Regions from separate parts of the Homo sapiens genome. Here region 1 is linked to region 2. The links come from fine-mapping of genetic effects on gene expression. A gene starts in region 2. The other region holds a variant in brackets. All regions are shown on one strand. Distances are from middle to middle. Region 1 overlaps DYNC1I1 (dynein cytoplasmic 1 intermediate chain 1). Region 2 holds the start of PON1 (paraoxonase 1).

Evidence for each region. PIP is the estimated chance that this variant, and not a neighbour inherited with it, causes the effect. A credible set is the group of variants that fine-mapping cannot tell apart.
Region 1: its variant is the best candidate, but not a certain one, in a credible set for the expression of PON1 in hypothalamus (GTEx, PIP 0.64).

What each region holds. Positions count from the first base shown.
Region 1 is chr7:95,899,005-95,911,257 of GRCh38, forward strand. The region is part of intron 6 of DYNC1I1 (dynein cytoplasmic 1 intermediate chain 1); the gene reads left to right. Among named protein-coding and RNA genes, the nearest start is that of DYNC1I1, 130 kb to the left of the region's middle. RefSeq lists an enhancer at 3,179-3,770 and a silencer at 6,260-6,460. The variant CATAGGT/C (reference allele first, on the strand shown) is at 5,073.
Region 2 is chr7:95,321,126-95,331,674 of GRCh38, forward strand. PON1 (paraoxonase 1) reads right to left here and starts at 3,407. Exons shown (of 9, transcript NM_000446.7): 1 at 3,277-3,407. The coding sequence starts at 3,350. RefSeq lists a silencer at 3,351-3,530.

The sequences.
Region 1 (12,253 bases), 580 kb after region 2:
GTTTTGTCACCAAGTAAAGGTAGGCTTTTTGATTTTTTTTCCAAGTACTTGTAAAATATTGTTTTTAATATTTCAAAAATGTGAAATCCACAAGTCTCAGACCTTGTTTTGAGACTTTGCTTACCCCCACCACCTAGGACAGTGCCTTACAAATTGTAGATACTCAATTGATATTTATTAAGTGAATGAAGGAAGCCCTGTAGAATTGTAAAATGTCAAAGCAATGGGGAAGGGACCATGTTACATCTGGAGACAGAGCTTCCAAGCATAGTAATCTTGCTCTGCATAAGGATTTCTGACCCTGCTTATATGTCAGAATCACCAGAGGGGCTTTAAAAAACAACCACAAACAAACTGGTGCCGGGATGCCTCCATGGGCCATGAAATCTGAATCTTCTGTTGGTCACTCTTGGGCTGAAATGATGTTCAAGTCAGAGGTCAGCGTTTCCCCATACTGGGCACCCTTGAGATTGAATCCCAGGCACATTCCACTCCAGATGGCCAGGTCTGATGTGTTGGTTCCACCAAGTCAGAATCATCCTGGACATTTTTTATATATTAGCTTGAGTCAATGACTCCTTGAAAAATGGAGATGGAGAACAGCAGTTGGTGGAGAGAGTGAACCACTCCTTCAGGCACGTTGTGAGCTGAACTAATTTAAAATCACAGGTAAGGATAATGCTACATGTGGAGTGTGTTAGAAACCACCACTTTCATTCAATGTTTCTAGCATGTTAGGATATTTAAAGCACGGAGGGGAAGAAAAATTACATCACTAGATTTTTTTCTGATCTTAAAGTAAGTTTTGAATATTTAATTCTTTTCTATGAATATTCTCCAGGAACTTCTACCATTGTTATCTGACTTCTATTCTACCTCTGTATGTATCTCTTTTGCCTTCTTATTCCCCAAAGCCTCTGATTTTAGAGCAGCTTGCAGAAATAGTGGTGAATAATGTGCTTATTATCATGTAGGTGCTCGCCTGTATTTTGTATGCAAGGAGGTATCTGTTCCATGGGACACATGAGTTTGCCCTGACGATGACCCAGAAAGGGTCTGCATGTGTATTTCTGCTGCCTTTTCCGGCCACAGCTTGGGGAGCTTGTCTGTAGAGGGCGTCCGAGGCTCCATGGATAGTGAGGTCCATCCTACTGCATTTTCAACACTGCTCCATAGCCTGTGCTCAGCATGCCACTGGAAAGGAATCCTAGCTGTATTCTCTTCAAATTTCCCTTCCCCTTTAATTCTTACTTCCTTCTTGTGACATTCTGCTATTCTTTGCCACAAACCATTGCAAAACAACCCATACAAGAGTTTTTGCCTCCTCCTTGGCTAGGGTAGAAGGCTCTTTGGAAACCACAAAGCCACATCTCCAGGGAACAGTAGCTTTATTAATATAATAATCACCACCATCATGGCCTGGATACAATATACACATTACTTTAGAAAGAAAAATAAGGACTATCTGGGGTTTGCTGGAGAAGCTGCACTTGAGGTTAGATGTGTATAGTTAAATTTGGAGTCAAGCTGAGGTCATTGCTAAGGAGATTTGGAGTTGGAAATCCATGTGGAAAATGGTTGCCCCATGGAAGTTATCCTCTCACCATTAAAACTCATTTTGAATAATATCAGTTAGGGAAAATACGAGGGTTTGATCCTGTAAGACTTGGGCTTTTCTTGATGCCCTGGTTTACTTGGAAAATAAGTTGTATGGTATATAATCTTTGCCATCCATCCTCTCTTTCTCAAAAAAATCCTAGCACAAATGGAATAAAAAAGTTTTATTAAGAAGAATCATACCATGTATGTTTCATGAGATTTTCATTCTAAATAACATATAAGGAATGAGTTGCACAATACCAAATATTTTAGACTGTGTTCCTTCTAAATAAGTTGAGTGTATTTAATGAAAGATTTTCTCCAATTGAAATGGAATAAGAAGAAAATATTAAAAGGTCCTTTAATTTCTTATTTGGTTGTTTCTTGGATATAGAGGAGGAAGAAAAAATAAAGTGTGGCAAAACAAACAAACATGGCATCCTCCTTTTTAAGCAATCATGTCAGCTTGGATGGAAATAACAAAGGATCCCAACTAAGTGTGCCAGAGCCTCCGGCAAAGGCAGACTGCTGACATGGCAGCTGTATGTTTCCAGCTGATTTTAGGCCTAGATAACTATCCCTTTCAGCTTAAATGATGCTCTACAGTCATTGACTAGTGCCCAGTTAGGTTGGAGCACAGTTCTTTTGGAACCTGTTCAGACCAACTTGGACTGCCTGTGAGATCTGGGCCAAGATCAGACTGGTTTCCTGGAGCCTGAGGCATAGTACAGGCTGTAGTAAAAGGGACAGAGTTCTCTGCATGTGTAGTAGAATGTATCATTGCATCTGTTTGCTACCTTTACTTTTTAAGAATAATCACAAATGAGTGAGAGCTACACTGTATTCTTCAGACTGAAGCAGGGTGTACACCAAATATCTTTTCCAATAATCTGTAAATTCAACAGGTTATTTTTCTTTTCTGTTTTAAAAATAGCTTGTACTTATCCCCCTCCTCTCCAACCCAAGTGTGGCTCTTGAACTATTTTCAATATATTGCCTTTTTAGGATCCCAAATTCTCCTTTTAATGTGAAACTTGCTTTAATTGACCAAAAATGCCATTTTCAAAATGTTCAATTCTCTGCAAAAGCATTGCTTACTGACAGTGCTTATTGATGAAGGCTGTGGAATCTAAAGGATGTCAACAGATGAATGAAGCCTAGTATGGTGAGATGAGGGCTGCCATCTGCTTAAGGGTTGGCCAAACACCTGGATAATTTAGGCTAAAAGACCAGCCATTTCTTCATTCTGAATACATAACAGAAATCACTGCTTTTTAGGTTTGGCCTCAATCAACAACAAGAACTGATTTCCCTGGTGATGCTGAACAAATGTTTAAGAGAGTAAGATCTGAAACTGATTCTCCAACTTTAGTGGGCCAGTGCATAAAATGATCCAGGTTTTCTGAATGCACATGAGCTGCCAGATGGGTTGTTTAGTATAAGCAGTGCAATCTTTGTTTCTTTAGCTGCTGTCTGCAAATATTGGTATTTAAGGGCGGCTCTAAAGTGACCAAAGAAAGTTTGTGAAATTCAAGAGGCTGTCTTTTTCCTTTCCCAAAAAATAATTGTTTTTGGTATATGAGCCCAGGAGATAATTGCATGCTGACTTCTTGTTCTCCAGTGGCGTGTTTTTTCCTGCTATTGAGCAGAACTGAAATAGTTAGCATGTAGAAAAATACATGGAATATTAAACTAAAATATGTCTGTCTAGGGATCCATTTAGTTGCCTCCAATAGCTCCTTTCTTTGTGAATGCCATTATGTTTATATATATTTAAATGCCCCCTTTGCTACACTGGTTTTAGCTTCTTGTTAGCATCACTTCTTGTTAGCATGATGTTCTACAGCACAAGGCAGCTGAAGAAGTGAAACATGTGTTGAAGAATTTATGCAGTGTCCTCAGATTCTTTCATTAAGAGAAGCAAGAATAATAGGTGCATATTATAAGCTTGCTGTGTTAAGCAATATGTTATTGCTATGCTTGACAGACATCTTGTTTACATTCATGTTATATATTGGGGAAACCATTGCATTTTAAGAACATGGCATTTTTTTATAGTATTATTTATACTGTGCCTCATATGCATGGGAAACGTAGTCGTCTAAAAACATGATATGTTTTAAATCCACTTGTCTCCTCCTCCTAATGAAATATTCCAAGTGCTTTCCCCCCAGCGTAGGGAGTTCAACGTGTTCTTTATTCAGGCCATTCTAATTACTGCCAGCCACATTCCCTCAATTTATTAAAACAATGGCCCAGCTTATTTCAGTTTAGTTTAATTCATGTGTGAAAACTTTACCCCCATCTTATTCCATGGAGAACAGTATGAAAGCTATCTTTCTAGTTGGTCCAGTGTTTTTGTTTTTAGAAAAGCACCGGCTGTTTCCAGGCTGACTCAGGAACATCATTAATTTAGTTGAGCCTTGTGCAATTGTTAATGGGCATGAGATAGCCTAGTGGTGCAGCCTCATCTGGAGTGCAAAATATTACAGTACTCCATGGCCAAATCTTGGTAGCAAGTATTTTTTGCTATCTTTACCCTCACTAAGGAGAAACGTGAAGTGTGAGGCAATTTAGTATAGTTAGTATTTTAGTAGTAAGTACCGTATATTGAAGGTGGGAAATAAGAACATATTTACCTTCTCCTAGTTTTTACATCTTTTGCACACTGAAATCAAACTGTGCTTCTCCAAAGTGTTTTGTGCCATTTTACCCAAATGCTTCCAACTTATTTAGGGAAGTGTTCATTTTAAGAGTGTGGCACCTTGTATTTTCTGAAGCATCCTTTTCTACCTCCAACAGGGAGCAGCAAGGCTAGTCACAGCTAGTTCTAGCTGGACAGTAATCCATGCCAAGGACTGGAACCCAGAAGAAGTAAAAGTGAAGAAAATAAGTGGAGCTGGATTAAAAGATAGACCCACACACAAAGAGGCAGACAGGAGACTTAATGTTTGCAATGTTTCAGCTTGTGGGAAAACCAACTGTCATGTGAATATTCTGCAAAGAACAGAAATGATATCATTTTATTAGCACCACAATTCATAGTTTATTGAATGCTTCCATTTTCCAGGCCTTGCTAAGTGGATCCTTTATTTAAATTTATCCTTATAACAACTCTGTGGGGAAAGTTCAATCATTCCTCTTTGATAGGTAAGGAAACTGAGGCTTACAGAGGTTGTGGAGCTGTGTGAGGGTACAACCAATAATTAGTAGAAGCAGAATTTGAATCTCTGTTTGACTCCAAAGAATGAGAATGTGCATCATTGGTAGGGTGTACTTAGTTGAATGCTAGAAAGCAGTGGATGCTGCTGTGAGATAACTTGGCTTAGAGCAGAAAGCAACTCCCAAAGAGAGCCTAGAGACAGGTGGGTGGAGAGGAGCAGCAGTATCCTGAGAATGTGTTGACAGTTTGGCAACATTTTATGGCTAGATCAAAAGATTTCTAGTCCAGTTTTGCCTTATTTTTCTGGAGG[CATAGGT/C]ACTAGGCAGCTGATAAGTGGGCTTGGTTAGCCCTTTATTTTAGGGTATATGGAGAAGTTTAGACTGCCCTAAATCTGGCAACTGCATTATGGTGCAAGGGCATCACATCACAGAATCCACATGACATTACTTCCAGAGTACTGTTACCAAGGACCTGGACCCTAGCCAGACCTCAGGCCCTTGATCCTCAGTTCCTCTTTCCCTGCTCATCTGTGTAAGATGGAGGCAGCTGACTCCCAGAGCAACTGCTGGATGGGCTGATGGACAGAAGGAGATGCACCCTAGTAAGCCATAAGTGATATGCTTTGCCTAGCTAATTCTGCAAAAGAGAAGTGACAGATACTCAGCATTGAGAAATTGGTCAGATTATTTATAACAAAATGGGAGGAGACTGGAGACTGGGAGATGAAGAGACACATTTTCAGCCAATGGCAGATGCAGGACATCACAGAACATTCTCTTAGGATTTGCATGTTGGTTAGTATTGGGGAGATTTTACATATATATGTAAAAATACATATGTATGTATACATATGTGTGTATGTATATATATATATACACATATACACATGCACACATACACACAAAGATATATATATACAGACATCCCAATAATAAGCTTTCTGTAAATAGCAGAAGGGAATGTGATCTTGAATTCTTGGAAAACTTTTTCCTTGACATCCAATATCTCTGAAAAGAATTGTCAGTTAAAGTGTATGTTCTAAAAACTTTTAGCTCCTTCTTTGGACTATCTGCCTGCCACTTGATTGTTTACTCTCTGACCCACTGGCATGATATTTCTATATTGATTTTCCCAACATTCCTTTTGTCACATCTCTGTTCAAAGTTTCAGAATGCTGAAGTTGCCTATGCAAAAAGTCAAAATGCCTTATCACTGAAATCAGTACTTTTCACAAGCTAATTTCAGCCTGCATTTCCAGGTTCATTTCTACAGTTTCCCTGTGTAAGTTCTCTAGTTTAAGCAAGTGGGTCAATTTATTGTTTCTGACCCTTATTTAAAGTGTTGTTTTCACTTACAATGCCTCCACTGTTTTCTTTACCTGTTGGAATGCCAATTGGAAGCCAAATTGATGGCCTAGAATTATAAACCATGACAGGCAACAGACAAGGTGCATTTTGGCTTGGAAAGTAATTGAGGTCATAAATAGCAGTAGTTTCAGAGTGGATGAAGTAAAGAGGTTCCCATGTTGCGTGTGCAGAAACACTAAGGCAAGCCTTGGTCCACTGGGTCAGTGACATCGGAATGGAATAGGTCAGTACCCTGGATAGCTCCCAGGAATACAAAACTCGAGTGCTGACAAGGTTCTATACTTGGAGTTGTAGACCTACTCAGCTGCAGACTCATATTTTCTGCACCCCTTTTTCTTAAAAAGGCCACTGTCATTTTTCCTCTAAGTTTAGCAACTAGAGATTCTAAGACTCATGCTAATATTGCCCTTCTTCTTTCCTGACCTATGTCTCAAACTCACGTGGGGTCCCTGATTATGCTGAAGGGTTTATCCTCCATTTTATTGCATGAGATGTTCGCCAGGGGGTTTGTCTTTCTTCGGGTAGGGATAGGGACTGGACTTCTACTAACGCCCCATTGTGTCTGGGCTTTTTTTTTTTTCATAGATGGCATTTCATTATCCTGTCAACACTGTGAGCAGATTAAAATTTTGCCCATCCTTCAAGATTAAGTCCCACTCTCACCTTTGCTTTGATCTCTCCACTGATCAGCCCAATATAAAAGTAGCTCTCTCTCATCTTAACTAGAACACTTTGTAGTCTTTATAGTCATTCATTTCAATATTAATGATATACTGTTCTTTATAAGCTATCTTTTTATCTCTCTGTGTTATAGCTCTCCAATTGGCTTGGATGCTTCTTGGGGACATGCTTCTTAGCAACAGGGCTTCCCAACGGTAAGGACCCAGTGAGGATGCACTGCAGATTATTGCATGAACTATATTTTTTCTGGGAAAGACAGAGAGAACAGTTTCAAGTTTTCTGATAGACATGTTCAGTCAGTAGCCCTTTTCAATTATATGTAAAATATATTTCTTGAAGTTTCTATTATTTCTGGAAGCCTTCTCCTTGTTGTGGTGTAATGAATATAGCATGGACTGTTGTGAGCCAAAGAGACCTGGGTTTGCATTCTTATTTCACCACTTATAACTGTGACCTTGGGCAAGTTACTTAATCCCCTTGAGCTACGGTTTCTGCATCTAGGAGTATGGAAACAGAATTCACTGCATATGATATTCGTAAAAAGTAAATGAGATATTGAATGTAAAGGGTCTCAATCACTTGTCACAGAGTGAGAGGCTTAATTCTTATTGATGCCTTTTCCTTTTTTTATACATCTGTGGCTCTTGCTTTTTAATCAAACTTTTCTGAGGGTCTTTAAAACACCACCTTTACGTATTTTCCACCATGTGCTCACAGTGAGTCCTTGATCTCGGTGAAGGACTTATCTTTCACTTCCATTTATTCCTAGAATTAGCCTTAATTTTTTTTTCATTAAAAGATTGAGACTTAGTTGCTTTATTTGTTATTCAAAAAACAGACCTTTAAGCTGTATGCTTATATTTACTGGGGTGGGAGAATTTGTCTTTGAGGAAATCAGGGTGGAGTACATTTGCTCTTGCTTCTTTTATTTATAGAAAGCCCCATTATCAAGCAACCTGAAAAACTACAGTCTACTATAGCTCCAAGAAAATTAAATGCTTGTGACAAACAGAGGTCTCAGGACACACATTGGGCAGCCCAGTCTTCATTGCTTGCAAGTGGCTGATTCTCAGAGACTGTGAAGGAAAAGTCTTAGAATAAATCTGAATATTTATGAAAGAAAACCAAAGCATTTTAGCTGGGCTTCCATCTCTTTAAACAATACCAGTCACAGAAATGTGGTTTCATAGTCATTTAAAATACAGTTTACAGAGGAATTAAGCTAAACCACTTAAGCTCTCCAAGCAGCTGTGCTTTCTCAGCTTCCTTACCGAGAGCTGCTTGCAGAACATCCGCTTTGAAATCGGCAGCTCAGTCAAAAACAGAGCTGTTGATCTCTGAGCTACTTGCTTTTTCTTGTCCCACACTTCTCAGGTAATGCAAAACAGTGGAAAAATATTTGGATACGAGCATATATCCTTGCCCCGCTTTTTCATGTTTGAAGCAGCCTTACTCTCATGAGTGTAAGTGAGCACCTGAAAATGAGTTAAGGTCACACAGTGTGTGCTTTCATAAGCCACCATATAATTGCCAGAATGACCGTTTATATTTTGGGGGAAACTTTAGGACTTCTGTCTTCCCGGAGAATAATCTGGCACTTAAAGCTGTGTACAGTCAGCCTAACCTCCTCTCACTTGCACATGGGAGCCCTTGGACTCAGCCCGTTGGTCTCTTCACTCTTCACTATGGTCAAATCACATTCCTGTCCCTGTGCCTGTGGTCTTGCTCTTCCCTACTCTTCCAGTGACATTCCCTCTGCTGTTTAACTAGCCCCAACCCCACCCATTCCACTGCTGAAAGCCCAAGACTCATCTCCTCACAAATAGTTCCTACAGCCTCTTCAGTTCAGTTTCCCGTCCTCATTCTCTGCCTTTTACCAGGACTGTATCGGTTCATTTGGTCCTTGTTCTCAAGTAGACCACAGGGCAGTCTACTTGAGAATGAATGTCTCAATCAACTGTTTTTTTTTTTTTTGGTCTCAGAATATATATATATATTCAACATTCAATAAATATTGTTTAACAGAATTATCAGTTACATGGAAAAGTAGAAAAGCATTGTCAAATTGAGTTCTATTTTTTGAAAACAAAATATGAGTAGCAAGAAATAAATAGAATGAAAACAATACTTGCAAATTATGTAAGTAAATTCAACCAAATGTGACAGATGGAAATTTTTATAATTGTTAACTATGTTTTATTTACTTTTTATAACATATTTTAACTAATACAAAATAGTGTTTAGGTGTTGGCAAATTTAGTTAAGCAGTCATGGGTATCTTATTTAAGGAAGAAGATCATGAAATGCTCTTTTTAACCTTGTTAAACAACCACGGGAGGAGATGGAGACTACCCGTGCAAGGAGACTGCACTTATAGAGTTTAATAAAAATGTATCTATCATAAACTTAGTTTCTAAAACAATAAAATATTTGTTTATAGAACCCTATCATGGAGCTCTCTAGTTTTGCAAATGAGCTATTTTTCCACATTTCATTCTATAAGCAAGCATTTGACACCTAAATAGCGAGCTGTAGATTTAACATCTATTGTGTTATACCCTAAATATCAAAGATTTAAAAAAACACTGGTAGGCACTATTGATGAGACCATGAAAAGAGTTTTGAGGAAAATAATGCAGCCTTTTGTACCAGAAAACAGTAATAATAAAAAAAGTGAATGACTCATGATGCTCATAATACACCAAATGGCTAAATATTACTGGTTGAACAACTCTTCAACTCTGATTTCCTGAGCATTTTTCTAGCTAATCTGTAGGATTTAGCATTCAGTCGTCTGGCCTCTCTGGGTGGGGCGAGGGGTGGGGGTTCATCCATAGCCAAATGCAGGAGAGCCTCCTTGATTGCTCACTAGCAGCCCAGGAATCTAGGACTCCTGGTGATTTTCCCCAGCGGTTGGTTTAGAAAGTGTGCAGGCTTAGATACATGGAGAGCAGAGTGCTCGGCAGGGCATCCCCAGTGGAGCAGCACTGGAAAGCTGGCATCACCACATTATCATATCCAGAGTCATAGTAAAATGTACCTTGTTAAATGTGATCTTGGCCTGTAAAGAAACAAAAGACTACTTTTAAGACAAAACATAAACTGCATTACAAGCCAGGGAGTAGGGTTGATGGGAGGACTATGGGACGGCAGTGGGGGGAAATTAGAGAGTTGGGCACAGCTCTCCCAGACAGTGTCTGAAGAAAAAAGACTGTGTTTGTTCCTGGAACAGACCAAAAAGGGAGGATGTGAAGACTGATGAAATACCAAAGAGAGACTTGGGATAAAGACAGTTCTAATTGAAAGGGAAAGAATGGCAGGACAAAAGTTCATGGGGAGGAGAAAGAGGAGCTCAGTAATGAGACAGCAGAAAAAAAAAAAAAAACCCAGCTGAAAACTCTGGAGAAACTTGGAGGGTGGGAGGGGGGTGGGGGGGGGGGGCGGGGCGGGAAGGGAAAATACAACTTGGATATTTTTCGAACTCTAGCAGCAACAAGGATGTTTCCTAACCACATCTTTGGCTGTGAGAACCTTGTTGTTGGAAATTACATGTAAAACAAAAATGTGTCCAGATTCCATTTTGTATCTATTCATTTTTAAACCTGTGTTTATTGGGCATCTTCTGTGTGACTACATTGCACTACAGCCGGGGTTTCAGGGGGCATGGCTTGGGCATGCTCACACTCTGCTGTCCTGGAATGTGAAGGAATTGGATCCTGGGCCATGAAAGGAAAAGAGGAAGGAGGAAGAGAAGGACCTGGCAGAAGGAATGAGGGTGAAGCTGGAGTGACTTTTATAAAATATAAATAAATCGCATCACCCCCTTGCTTAAAACCCTTCCGTGGTATCTGGTGCTCTTTTTTTAAGGAAAAATTGTATTATTTTAATTATTTTTATGTACAGAAAACTCAACAGTGTACATTTAAGCCACTTTGGTGTGACAAGTTCTTTAACCTTTGCCTCTTCGAGCTTGGCAGTGCGAGCCACAGACTTGGGACCCAGCATCTGGTTGCTCTTGAGATCAGTCCAAACTCCTTGCTAGGTGCTTTGAGACCTGCGTTACCTGGACTGAGCCTCGTTCTCCATCCTGTTTCATCTGTCTTTCTCTCTCTTTCTCAGATGGTCATTTTGGGGTTGCGCTTGATTCAAGTGCACTTCAGAGGTGGTCCTGGGTCAGAAGACTGGCTGCAGAGCTGGCCCCACTGTTAGGCCACTGCAAGAATCTCCTTGCCTCTTTTCCTTGCATTGTCCCCACCTTGTCACCCCTATAGGGATGCTGTAAGGATGAAGGCTTTGCTCTTGCTTTGTTTGACCTATCTGAATTGGAGGACTCAGAATTCTTCTTTCTCCTTTCATTTCCACTCAATATTGAGTCCCTCCTAAGGCCTGTGAATTATTTCTTCATATTTCTTGGATCCTGTACCTTTCATGTCATTCCCAGAGCTAAAACCCTAACTCTAGCCATTATTACATCACACCTGAAATAATACAGCTTCCTAAATGCTACCCCCATCTGTTCCTCCTCCCACCCAGATTAACTGGCATTCAGGACTTCTGTGTCCAGGAGCCAGATGTTTTGTATTTTCTGTTATATTATCTGACAGCCCTAGCCCTTCATCCATGCATGTATAATCCATGTAAAGTGGACACTTATCCCTGGAAGTGGTAAGTCTTGAGCTGGGCTCTGAGGCATGGATTAAGGTTTAGAGAGGCTGAAGGGCAGGACAGGGCCTCCTGGGCATTAGCAAGGGTTTGGAGGCAGGTGTGCTGGGGCCAGTAAGTAGAGCAGAGAGTAATGGGAAATCAGGTTGCATTGGGCTTTGGCTGCCTTGTCAAGGCATTAGAAGAATAGGAATCAGTACAAGAATTATGGACATTTATAGGTTACAGACTGGGTTCAAGTCCTATTGCTGTCACTTATTAGTTACATGAACTTTGAAAGTACTCAGATTTCTCACCTGTTAAAGAGGCAATAGCACCCCTCACAGGGTTGTTTTGAAAATGAAATCAGATCATACATACATGTAGCTCACAGTTGCTCATGACTAGCATGTAGTAGAGGTTGGCCGTCGTAATATTGGCCATCATCATCTTTATCATCATGACCTTTGTCATGATCATTATTTTTTTGGATAATGGTGAATATTAAAGATTTGGAATTTTTTAAAAACGAGAGGTGAGAAAGGATAGCATGGTAAAAGCTATGCTTTGAGGGTGTCACATTTTTAGGAGGTTAGCTTGGAAGAGTTCTGAAGAGGCATTCTCACTCAAGTGTGGGGATAGCTGGGCTACTCTGCCAACAGCTATGATGATGTTTCCAGACACAGTATAAAAAAATAGACCAACAAGGCTTGATAATCCACAATTGTCAAAAATTAGAACAGAGCAGGAGTCTTGAAGCCAGGGAAACTTCACAGTTTTGGAGGTTCGAACTTGTCAGTGA
Region 2 (10,549 bases):
CAGGCTCTTTTCAATCAACCAGCTCTCTCGAAATGAATAGAGTGAGAATTCACTCACTCCCAAGGAGGTCATTAATCTATTCATGAGGGATCCATCTTCATGACCCAAACACCTCCCATTGGGCCCCACCTCCAACATTAGAGATCAAATACGAGGTTTGGAGAGGACGAACATCCAAACCAAGGCAGAAGTATTCGGTGAAAATACATGCTGGCTGCTCGCAGAAAAAAGCAGAGATCTTTGCCTAGGCATTAAGAAATCCGTATCGATTCTCAAACTCTTCTTGGGGCCAAATTCACTCTAATCAGTCTATTTTCTGCTACTACACACGCCTCATTCATTCAAATTGCTTTTCATGGCCTACTATGTGCCAAGCTCCAATAAGGGCTCTCACACATACTTCCTCATTTAATCTTTTTAGCCACCTTTGAGAAAAAGATGAATATTTACCCTGTTTTGTAGGTAAGGAAATGGAGGCACTGAGAGGCTGAGTAAATTGCATGTGGTTGCTTATTTAAGAGGGTAGAGTTGGGATTTGAAATCAAGTGTCATGATACTAAGGACTCTTCCCTGTATTTCTTTCATACCTCTTTTTATTTGCTCACACTTTTCCCTTCACCTAGAATGCTCTTTAGCCCATTACCCACTGGAAAGACCCCTACTCATGATGCTTTGTAGCTTCTCCAGTCTTCTGCATTGGGATTAATAACTCCTTAGTTTACCCTCAGGAACCTTCACATATACATCTGTCAACTTTCTTACCATAGTTGTCATAGTTGTCAGTTTCACAGCTGTCAGTTTTTGTTCTTTTGCTCCCAGTAGACTTTAAAATTGGTGAGTGAATACTGCAACCTATTCATTCCTATAACCTCCAGCAGAAACACAACGTTTGCAAAGAGAAGGTACTCTGCAGATGTCCACTGAAGTGTTTTGTGGAGATACTAGGCAAGTACATCAGACTGAGAAGATGGTGTTGGTTGCATTCATAGGGGAGACTGGAGGGTTGGAGGATTATTTGTCCTTATCTCAGACTTTCAATGAAGTATGATTATAATACATATTCAAGTATCACTCTATATTTTTGAGATCACATATGACAGCTATAAAAGCTAACGTTTACAGGACATCTGCTATATGCCTGATTTTTATATATATATATATACTTAGTTTTATTTATATGTTTTATATAAATATAAATATATGTATGTGTGTGTGTGTGTGTGTGTATATATATATATATATGCTGTAATATGTATTATTATCCCCTAATTTTCGGGTGGAGAAACTGGCTGGAACTTTTCTGGAATAAAGTGGTAAAATAACTTGAAAGTTGCAGAAATGATATCTAACCCAGGTCATCAGGAATCCACAACTACTCTCTTCCCACAACTGTGTGTTGCCTACAGTAAGCATGGAATGGCAGAAATGCATCGAGAGGCCCAACGTTAGCTTTGTGGTTTCCTTCTGAGAAGGGAAACTCAGTGGACTCACGTATTGCAATTAGCAATGTAGGGACAAGGAAGTTGCCATACAGATGCTGCAACATTCCATAGCCCAAGTTGGGGTAGGGGAGGGGAGCTGTTTCTACCATCATCCAAGGCATTCCCTGGACTTGTGCGGCACATACAGCCGACTACAAAGGTGGGAGACTCGTGGGTGGGAGACTCGTGGTCTAGGGGAACTCTCTCAGTTCTTTTCTCTGTACTGCTCCCACCTGGGAAACTCAGAAATCTCTTGAGGCATCCCTTGTGTGCTTCCTTAAGTTCCCTCCAGCCCAGGCATATATAGCTTCCTGTGAGCCGCACACACATACACTCCAAGTCTGAAGAAAAAAGGATGCATCTATCCTGGGGATTTGGCTTGCTCCTGATGCAGGCCTCATGATATCATCTCTTGCCTTCTCTCCCTGGGGCAGATTCATGATCTCTAATCCCCCAGGGAGTTTGTTCCATGACGCTGGTTCTGATTCAATAGTGTGGGGTAGGGCTTGAGATTCTGCCTGTACAGGGAGCCCCTAGGTGATGCTCAGGCATCTGGTCCCCAGACCCAGTTGAGTAGCTAGGTTTTAGGGGTTTCCAACAGTGGGTAAAATTTCCCTTCCTTCCTCTGTCTGGGTCACTCCAGGAGGCTCAGCAACCCATCCTTTATCTATATATTTTTATCTATACCTATAATCTCCTTTGGCAGCCACCAGCACTGTGATTAATAAAAACTCACAAACTGTAATTTTTACATGATTTAAAAGCCAAGAATACCAACTGCTTCTTACTTTTTTTCTGCACTCTGTAACTTAAAAAAATTAGAAAAACATCCACAATAAATAGTAAAAACCCATTCTGAATGTAAGCTTCTAATTAGTCCATAAGCTCATATAATTTTTTTATATTTAATTTTTATTAGGTTTTACTTTAAAGTAAATAAGGCATTGTTGACTAAGCCTTAGAGACTAGGATGATCTGTAGACTTTGAACTCCTGTTAAAAGTTATGAAACTTTTGATACATTCTTAAAATATCCCCACCCCCCTTGTATAGCACTTAACCCTTTATTAAATACTTTAAAGGGAAGCAGGGAACTAACATTTATTGAATAGCTACTCTGTCGCAGGCAGTGTGTATTACTATTTCCAGTTTACTGAAGCAGCTAAGGTTAGAGATGTAAAGTGATTTGCCCAAATCGCATACTCATGGGGCAGAGCTAAACCCCAGGACATCAGATGCTGGCTCCAGGGTTCCCTCTTCCCCGCCTGCCCCCACTGAAGCGAACCATCACAGCACACGTTAGCTCCACCTGCTCGGGTCCACACGCAGTTTTGCTGTGGCCCTCAGTAGCCTCAATTTGAGAATCTTCAAGCCTGGAAGGTTTGCCATGGCCAGGCAGTCAAGGCGCAGAAGCGACAGGGGCTCCTTTCTCTAATACACAAAATATCAGGAGAACCCCCAGCCAGGTTAGTTTGTTTCTTTCCAGGTTGAGAAGTGAATCTGTAGCCAGGGCACACAAATCTTCATGAAAAATTAATTCGTGTATGCTGACAACCTGGGCACTCACACCCCTGGCAATTGCCTCCTTATCCCATGTCTCAGGCCATGAGCAAGAGTTTGTTTTCAAGTGACACATGACGGCTGGACAAACATTTATGAAACCCCCGCAGAGTGTGCATCTAGCACCTGCTTGTAAATGTTCTGTTAACAGCCTGGACCCAACTTTCTGGGGGCTCGTGGAGCTGGCAGGGAGTGAGGAGGACGAAGGCTGCAGCCCTCACCACAACCCAACTTACTGGTAAGAAGACTGGTGGTTCCTGAAGAGTGCCAGTCCCATCCCCAAGAGGGTGAGCGCAATCAGCTTCGCCATGGTCGGGGATAGACAAAGGGATCGATGGGCGCAGACACCGACGGGCTAGGAGGCTCTGCCTGCCTGCAGCCGCAGCCCTGCTGGGGCAGCGCCGATTGGCCCGCCCCGCCCCTCCCCGCCGGGTCGGCAGCTAGCTGGGCCGACCAGGTGCACAGAAGGCGTGGCTTGCGGTCAGCCCCCACCGCAGGAGCTCAGCACTTTCAGCCAAAAGTCCCATTTTGCTCCTTCCAACTGTAAAGAGAGAAGACAGAGAATAGGTGCCTAGTCCAGTCGGGGAGGGGAAATCAAACAAGCTGAAGTAAATTGCCATGGGAAAGGACAGTCAAGCTTTGGTGAGCACTCACTTTGTGCCATCCCGGTCCTTGCGTCTCAGAGAGATTCAGTAGCTTGATCATGGTGACAGCCAAAAAGGTGCGGAAGGGAGGGCTGTAGTAGGAACCCCTAAGATCTAACTGTTCTCACCAGGCTACTACTCTGTGTCACCTTCCAACATCTGGATTTCAAGCATTTTTCTCTCAACACCACTCTGACTTTAGAGTTCACTCAAGTACATCCCCCACACAGCTCATTCATTTCCTCATGCAGCTGGCATTTATTGAGTACCTACTATGTGCCAGGCGCTGTTCTAGATGCTACAGAACAGGACAAAACGTCTTCCTCAAGCTTACGTTCATTCCAATGGGGGGAGTCAATTGAGAAATCAGCAAAACATGTCACTGTGGCATATATAATGCTCTAGGTGATGCATGTGTGTGTTATGGATATGCACATATGTTATGGAGAAAACACATAAAGCAAGAAAGGGGATAAGGAATACCCTCTGCTGAAGAATAGCAGTCAGAGAAGTTCTCACTGATAATGGGGCATTTGAGTAAAGACCCAAAGGAGGTGCCTCTGTACAACCATGTCTCTCTTCTCTGCTGTCTGCTGTTACTGTGAATGATTTGCTCCATGTCTCTTTCCTTCTCAAGGCTTTTGGTCCCAGTTATACCTTCTCTCTTCTGCAATATCTGTCCTTTCATCTCTTGTGGAATATTGCCAGCCAATACCAACATGCTTTACTTATCACCTTTAGCTTTCTGGGGGGAAGCTTCTTTGGCCTCACATTGTAACTACTGCCCTCTCTCTCTGCTCCTTCTGAACACTTGCTCTTAAGCCTTGAGCTACTATGTAAAAAACCTGACCACTCCACTGGAGCATTCACATGAAAGGCCATGAACATATGGAGAGGGAAAGTGGTCAGCTGAAGCCAACCTCTTAACCATCGGCACCAAGGAAGCAGAAATGAATGAAGTGGGCTATTAGACAAGCCCAGCCACCACAGCCTGGCCACCAACTGAATACCACTGGCTAAGCCACCCTGGTTAACACCAGGTGGAGCAGAAGAATCTACCTAAGAAGTAGAACCAATGAATCCAAAAGAGAAGAGTATTCGAAAAGAGGGGGAATGATGATCTGTGTCCAATGTGGCTATGAGTTGAGTATGCTTATGGCAGAGAAGTAACTACTGAATTAGATAACATGGATACAATAGGTGGTTTAATAAGAACAAATTCTACACGAGTCAAAAGAACACAAACCATATTAGAATGGGTTAAGGTGAGAATGGAAGATTGGAGATATTTCACAAGGTTAGCTGCTAAACCAAACAATCATTTTCTTATGCTCATAAACAGTGCATAAGGAATTTGGGCAGGGCCCAGCAGGCTACCTGGTTGACATGCCCACTGGGGTGTTTAACAGTCTTTTCAAAATGTGTCCAAAGGAAAACTCTTAATCCCCCCTGCCCAAACTCACACTTCAATAAATGGCATCACTACCATCCAGTTGCTCAAGTCCAAAATCTACATATCTTCTTTCATCCATCTCTTTTCCTCACACCCTCTTGCACCAAACAGATCAGTCAGTCCTATAGGCTCTATTTTGTATTAGTTATCGTATGCTGCATAACAAATTATACTAAAGTCTCACCATTAAAAACAACAAACATTTATTATCTCATCATTTCTGTGGGTCAGGAATTCAGGCATGGCACAGCTAGATACCTCTGGCTCAAGGTCTCTCATGAGTTAGCAGCTGAGCTGTCAGTGTGAATTGCCATCTTATCTGAAGGCTCAACTGGAGTGGGTGAAGGAGGTGAGATCAGCCTCCAAGATTACTCACACAGCTCTTTAGAGACTTCAGTCCCTTGATACTTCAGTCCCTTGATACGTGGGCCTCTCTACAGAACTACAACAGAACAAGGTAGCTGACTTTCACTAGAATGAGCAATCTGAAAGAGTGAGATAGCATGCCTCCAAAATGGATGCCACAATCTTTTATTAACCTAACTTCTGAAATGACATCCCCTAACTTCTGTCATATTCTGTTTGTTAGATGCAAACTGCTAACTCCAGTTTACATTCAAGGTGAGAAGAATTAAACTTCACCTTTTGAGGCTCCCCTTCATATGCCTTGAGGCATATTGATATGGTTTGGATGTTTGTCCCCTCCAAATCTCATGCTGAAATGTGATCCCCAATGGTGGAGGTGGGACAGGGTAGGAGGTGTTGGGTCATGGTGGCAGATCCCTCTGAATTGTCTTGGTGCCATCCTCATGGTAATGAGTGAGTTCTCTTGCTCTGAGTTCACGTGAGATTTGGTTGTTTAAAAGACTATAGCACCTCCCCCCACCCCCACTCCCTCTCTTGCCATGTGACATGCTAGTGATGCCCATCACCTTCCCCCATGATTTTAAGCTTCCTGAGGTCCTCACCAGAACCTGAGCAGATGTTGACACCATGCTTCCTGTACAGCCTACAGAACCATGAACCAATTAAAACTTTTTTTATATAAATTACCCAGCCTCAGGTGTTTATAGCAGTGCAAAAATGCCTAGCCCACATATCAAAGAATGTATAGATAGCTCTTTGAAACCACTACAACTTTCAAATAATCTTGAATCAACCCAATTTTCCCCATTTCCACTGCCATTACTCTGGTTCAGGCTGCTATCATCTCCAGGCTAGAACAGATTCTCCATTGTTCTCTCCCTAATCACCCTCCCCACAAATCCATTCTTCTTACCAAGGCCCACGTAATCCTTTAAAAATGTAAATCAGATTATATCATTTCCATGCTTAAAATCCTCCCTCTTGTGGCTTCTCATTTTATTTTCTTATTGTGGCCTGAAAGGCCCCACAAGATCTGGGCTGTGCTTATCATCTGACCTAATTTCTTATAATTCACTCAGCATAACGTTGCAGCAACATTAGCTTTTGTACCATTCGGTACACACACCAAGTTTATTGCACTTCACCATCATTGTCTTTGCTATTCTTTGGCTAGAATCCTCTTCCCATCCCCCTGACTTAACTTCCCAACTACCCCTTGCATTTCTCTTTCTCTTCATTCAGGTCATAGCTTAAATGTCACTTCTTCTGAGAGGCCTTTCCCAATATTACCATCTAGAGTAGACTTCCTCCACACCCTCTTCTCCTGAACCCTCTCTCTGCACCAGTTACTAAGACCTCAGTGCTGATATCAAATGGTTAGCACCAGTACAGAATTACTGGTTATTAGAATAATGACATATTTCTACAGTGGTTGTTAAATAACCACTTCCTCAGACCCTCCAAGAGGTCCTCCACAATACTGACCATTCTCTCTTCCCTGGAATCCTCCCTCACTTTACCATGATCTAGCAACCAAGGTATTATTTCCTGGCACAGTAGGGTCTCTAGGATTCTTCTCCCAAATAGTGTTTTGTTCAGCTGGGACTGAACTGACTGATTGAGGCTGTGCCATACCTGGTGTTAAGGACTCTATCACCACTGTCTTCACAGCACTCCATAGGAAATCATCTTCCTACTTAATGCCACCTGCCTTCCCCTACTAGCATGTAAACTTTTAGAGGTCACAGACCTTAACTTGCTAACTACCTTCTCTCTAACTCCTAGAACAGTTTCTGGCACATAGTAAATGCTCAAATATTTGTAAAGGGAAGGAAAGTACAAATGAATGGCAAGGGGTTGGGGATAAAGGAGGCAGGAGGAGCAGGGATTGAAAGATGGTTTGGGAGTAGACTAGAGATGCCACTCTCTCCTTTTCTGACCCAGTTGTCCTATGGGCCTTAAAGAACCCAAGTGGTCTTTCTTGCACAAAAATCCATGGTATTTGTTTGAAGTCACTGACTATTTGTTCTCTTTGTTCTCTTTTACCTCTTTTCACAACCAATCTTGTCCTCCTTCCTTCCCTTAACCTACTTATCTCTTTCAAATCCAAGAGCAAAGGTTTCCCATGTCAATGCACACTTTGAAATGGTCTGCTTTTTCTGGAGCTCTTGCTCTGGGCTTTTGTTTTCATTTGCTCTTTTGCCTGAAACACTGTCTTTCCATAAGCTTTTTATTCCCCATTTTAAAATACAAACGTCTTTATTGAGATATAATTTATATACAATAAACTGCACACATTTATAATATATAAATATAATTATATGTGTTTATAATTCAATATATGTCATTATATATAAATCAATAAGTTTTGGCATATATATTCACCCATGAAAACATCACAGGCATCAAGGTAATAAATATATCCTTTGCCTCCAAATTTCTTCATGCCTATTTGCAATCCCTCTCATACCTACGTCCACCCCACTTCCCTACAGATGTATTAGTTATCTACCATCATGTAACAAACAAGCCTGAAATGTGTCAGCTTATAACAACAAACACTTATCACCTCTCACTTTCTGTGGGCCAGGAGTATGACTACAACTTACCTGGTGCCTCTGCCTCAGGGTCTTTCCCAAGGTCGTAGCCCAGGCATTGGCCAGGACTGTGATCTCATTTTAACAAGCCAGATGGAAGTCACCATCTCTTTGTAACCTAATTTTCAAAGTGACATATCATTTTTTCCATGTTGTATTCATTCTGTTCTCTCAAGGTGAAGGAATTACACGAGGGTATGAATACTAGTCCCCATTCTTAACATGATCAAATCCTACCTGCTCCTTCAGGCACCTGTTTGCAATTTATTTCTACTAGTTTTTCCTGATGTCTAAATCTTGGATACCATTCTCATATGTCTCATTGCACCATGCTGCTTCTTTATTATTCCTGCCACTCTGTATTGTTAATACTTTATCACGGTACTGTTTTTCTCACTAGACCAGAAGCCTGTATAAAAATGCCTTGCTTGTTGTTATAGCTCTAACGCCTGGTACAGCACCTAACAAAATCTAGGTGCTCAATAAATATTGTTGAATACATGAATGAATGAATGAATGTTTAAAAGTTATTACAGAATCCTCTGGAATACTTTAATGTTCCATATTTTATTTACTGTAATGCCATCAGTGTTAAATACATAACTATCTATTATTCTTTTATTTTATGTACTACTAAAAAAGAAAAACTATAATTAATCTACAACACAATTCTAAGAAACTATTAATTATACAATAATTTCCTATTTCACACATGTTAAAATGTGCAGACAAGAGTATGAGTCCATGCTATGTGAAGATTTTAAATGTTATGAGAAGTTATGAAGGTGTTTTAAACTTAGAATTTTTTTATCACCAGAAATGTATAACCAAACATTTAAAAAGCAAACTTCTTTAAAAACTCAGATCTCACCTTGACTATTAGAATCCCTTTCCTTTCCTCCCTTGATCCTCATGTGCTAAGTATTTATTTGCACATGTTCAAATACTTCTTCCTAAATATATTTGGTAACAATCACATCAACCCATTCTTTTATTTTCCCACAAAAAGCCTAATTCACGGAGTAGTCAGTAAAAACTGTCAATGAATTGGTAGAAAGCCAGAGCCAAGTTTGCCAAGCTTAATTTTGTAGAAGTGCAAAAGGATTGATTGGGTAACTATACCACTTGGTGTTGTTCATCTGCAGAGGATGCTGAGCCCTGTTGGCAGTTGTTGCAATGTTCTCAAGTTTCTGAAAGTGTGAAATTCCAATGTTCTAAGAATGCCAATAATACCATTCTGCATGAGGCAGCTATAGTAAAGCTGGAAGAAAAAAAAACCCAAAAACCCTGGGCTTTAAATACTAAATTCATGGTCACTTCCTGAAAATTCTATAGTAGCAGAAATAACATCTGTAAAATGGAGATAATTCCTGTGGGTTTGCTGTATTAAATTTTTAAAAACCTGTGAAAGCACTATGCAGATATAAAGCAATGGCAGTGCAAAGTACAAGGTACTATCCAAGTCTGGAAGTTAGTTTACAAAATGCTTTTACCTTACATTCTCTCACAAGACCCTGGACAAGGAGATAGGATCAATACGATTATCCCCATTCATACAAAGTCATCCAATTAGGAAGTGTAGGAGCCCTAAGTTTGTATGTCTAGATATGGGCAAACCAAAACTGACGTGCACCTAAAAACAGAAACTGAAAGTACGAAAAGGGAAAGCTAACAGAACTATGTCACTTCACTTCAATTGTCTAAGCACACATCTCAAAAAGCTTAAAAATCCAAAGAAAGGAGAAGGATGGAAATGAAGATAAAATCAGCAATCAATGAAATAAAAAACAAACTTGAAGAGAGACTATCCATTGTATGAAGTGTCATTCAGTTATAAAAAAAGAATAAAGTCCTAATACATGCCACAACATAGATGCACCTTGAAATCATTATGCTAAGTGAAAGAAGCCAAACACAAAAGGCAGCATATTATAGGATTCCATTTACATGAAATAGCCAGAAAAGGCAAATCCATAAAGACAGAAAGCAGATTAGTAGTTGTCAGGAACTGCAGGGGAGAGGAGGATGGGGAATAACTACTTAATGCACATAGGTTTCCTTCTGAGATGGTGAAAAATATTCTGGCGCAAGATCATGGTGATGGTTGAACAATATTGTGAACATACTTAATGCCATTGAATTGTATGTCATTGAATGGTTAAATGATGAATTTTATACTATGTGAAATTTACTACAATAAAAACTTAGGACAAAACATTCAAAAGTTGATTATTGAAAAGACTAATGAAAGATATAAAACTGTGGTAAGACTGACAGAAAGAAAATGAGAAAGAAAACAAATTCTAAATGTGAGAAATAAAGAGGATATTACCGCAGATCCTAAATATGTAACAAAAGGATATTATGAACTACTTTATTCCACTAAATCTGCAAATTTAAATGAAAAGAATGAATTGCTAAATTTATCAAAGCATACACAAGCAGAAAC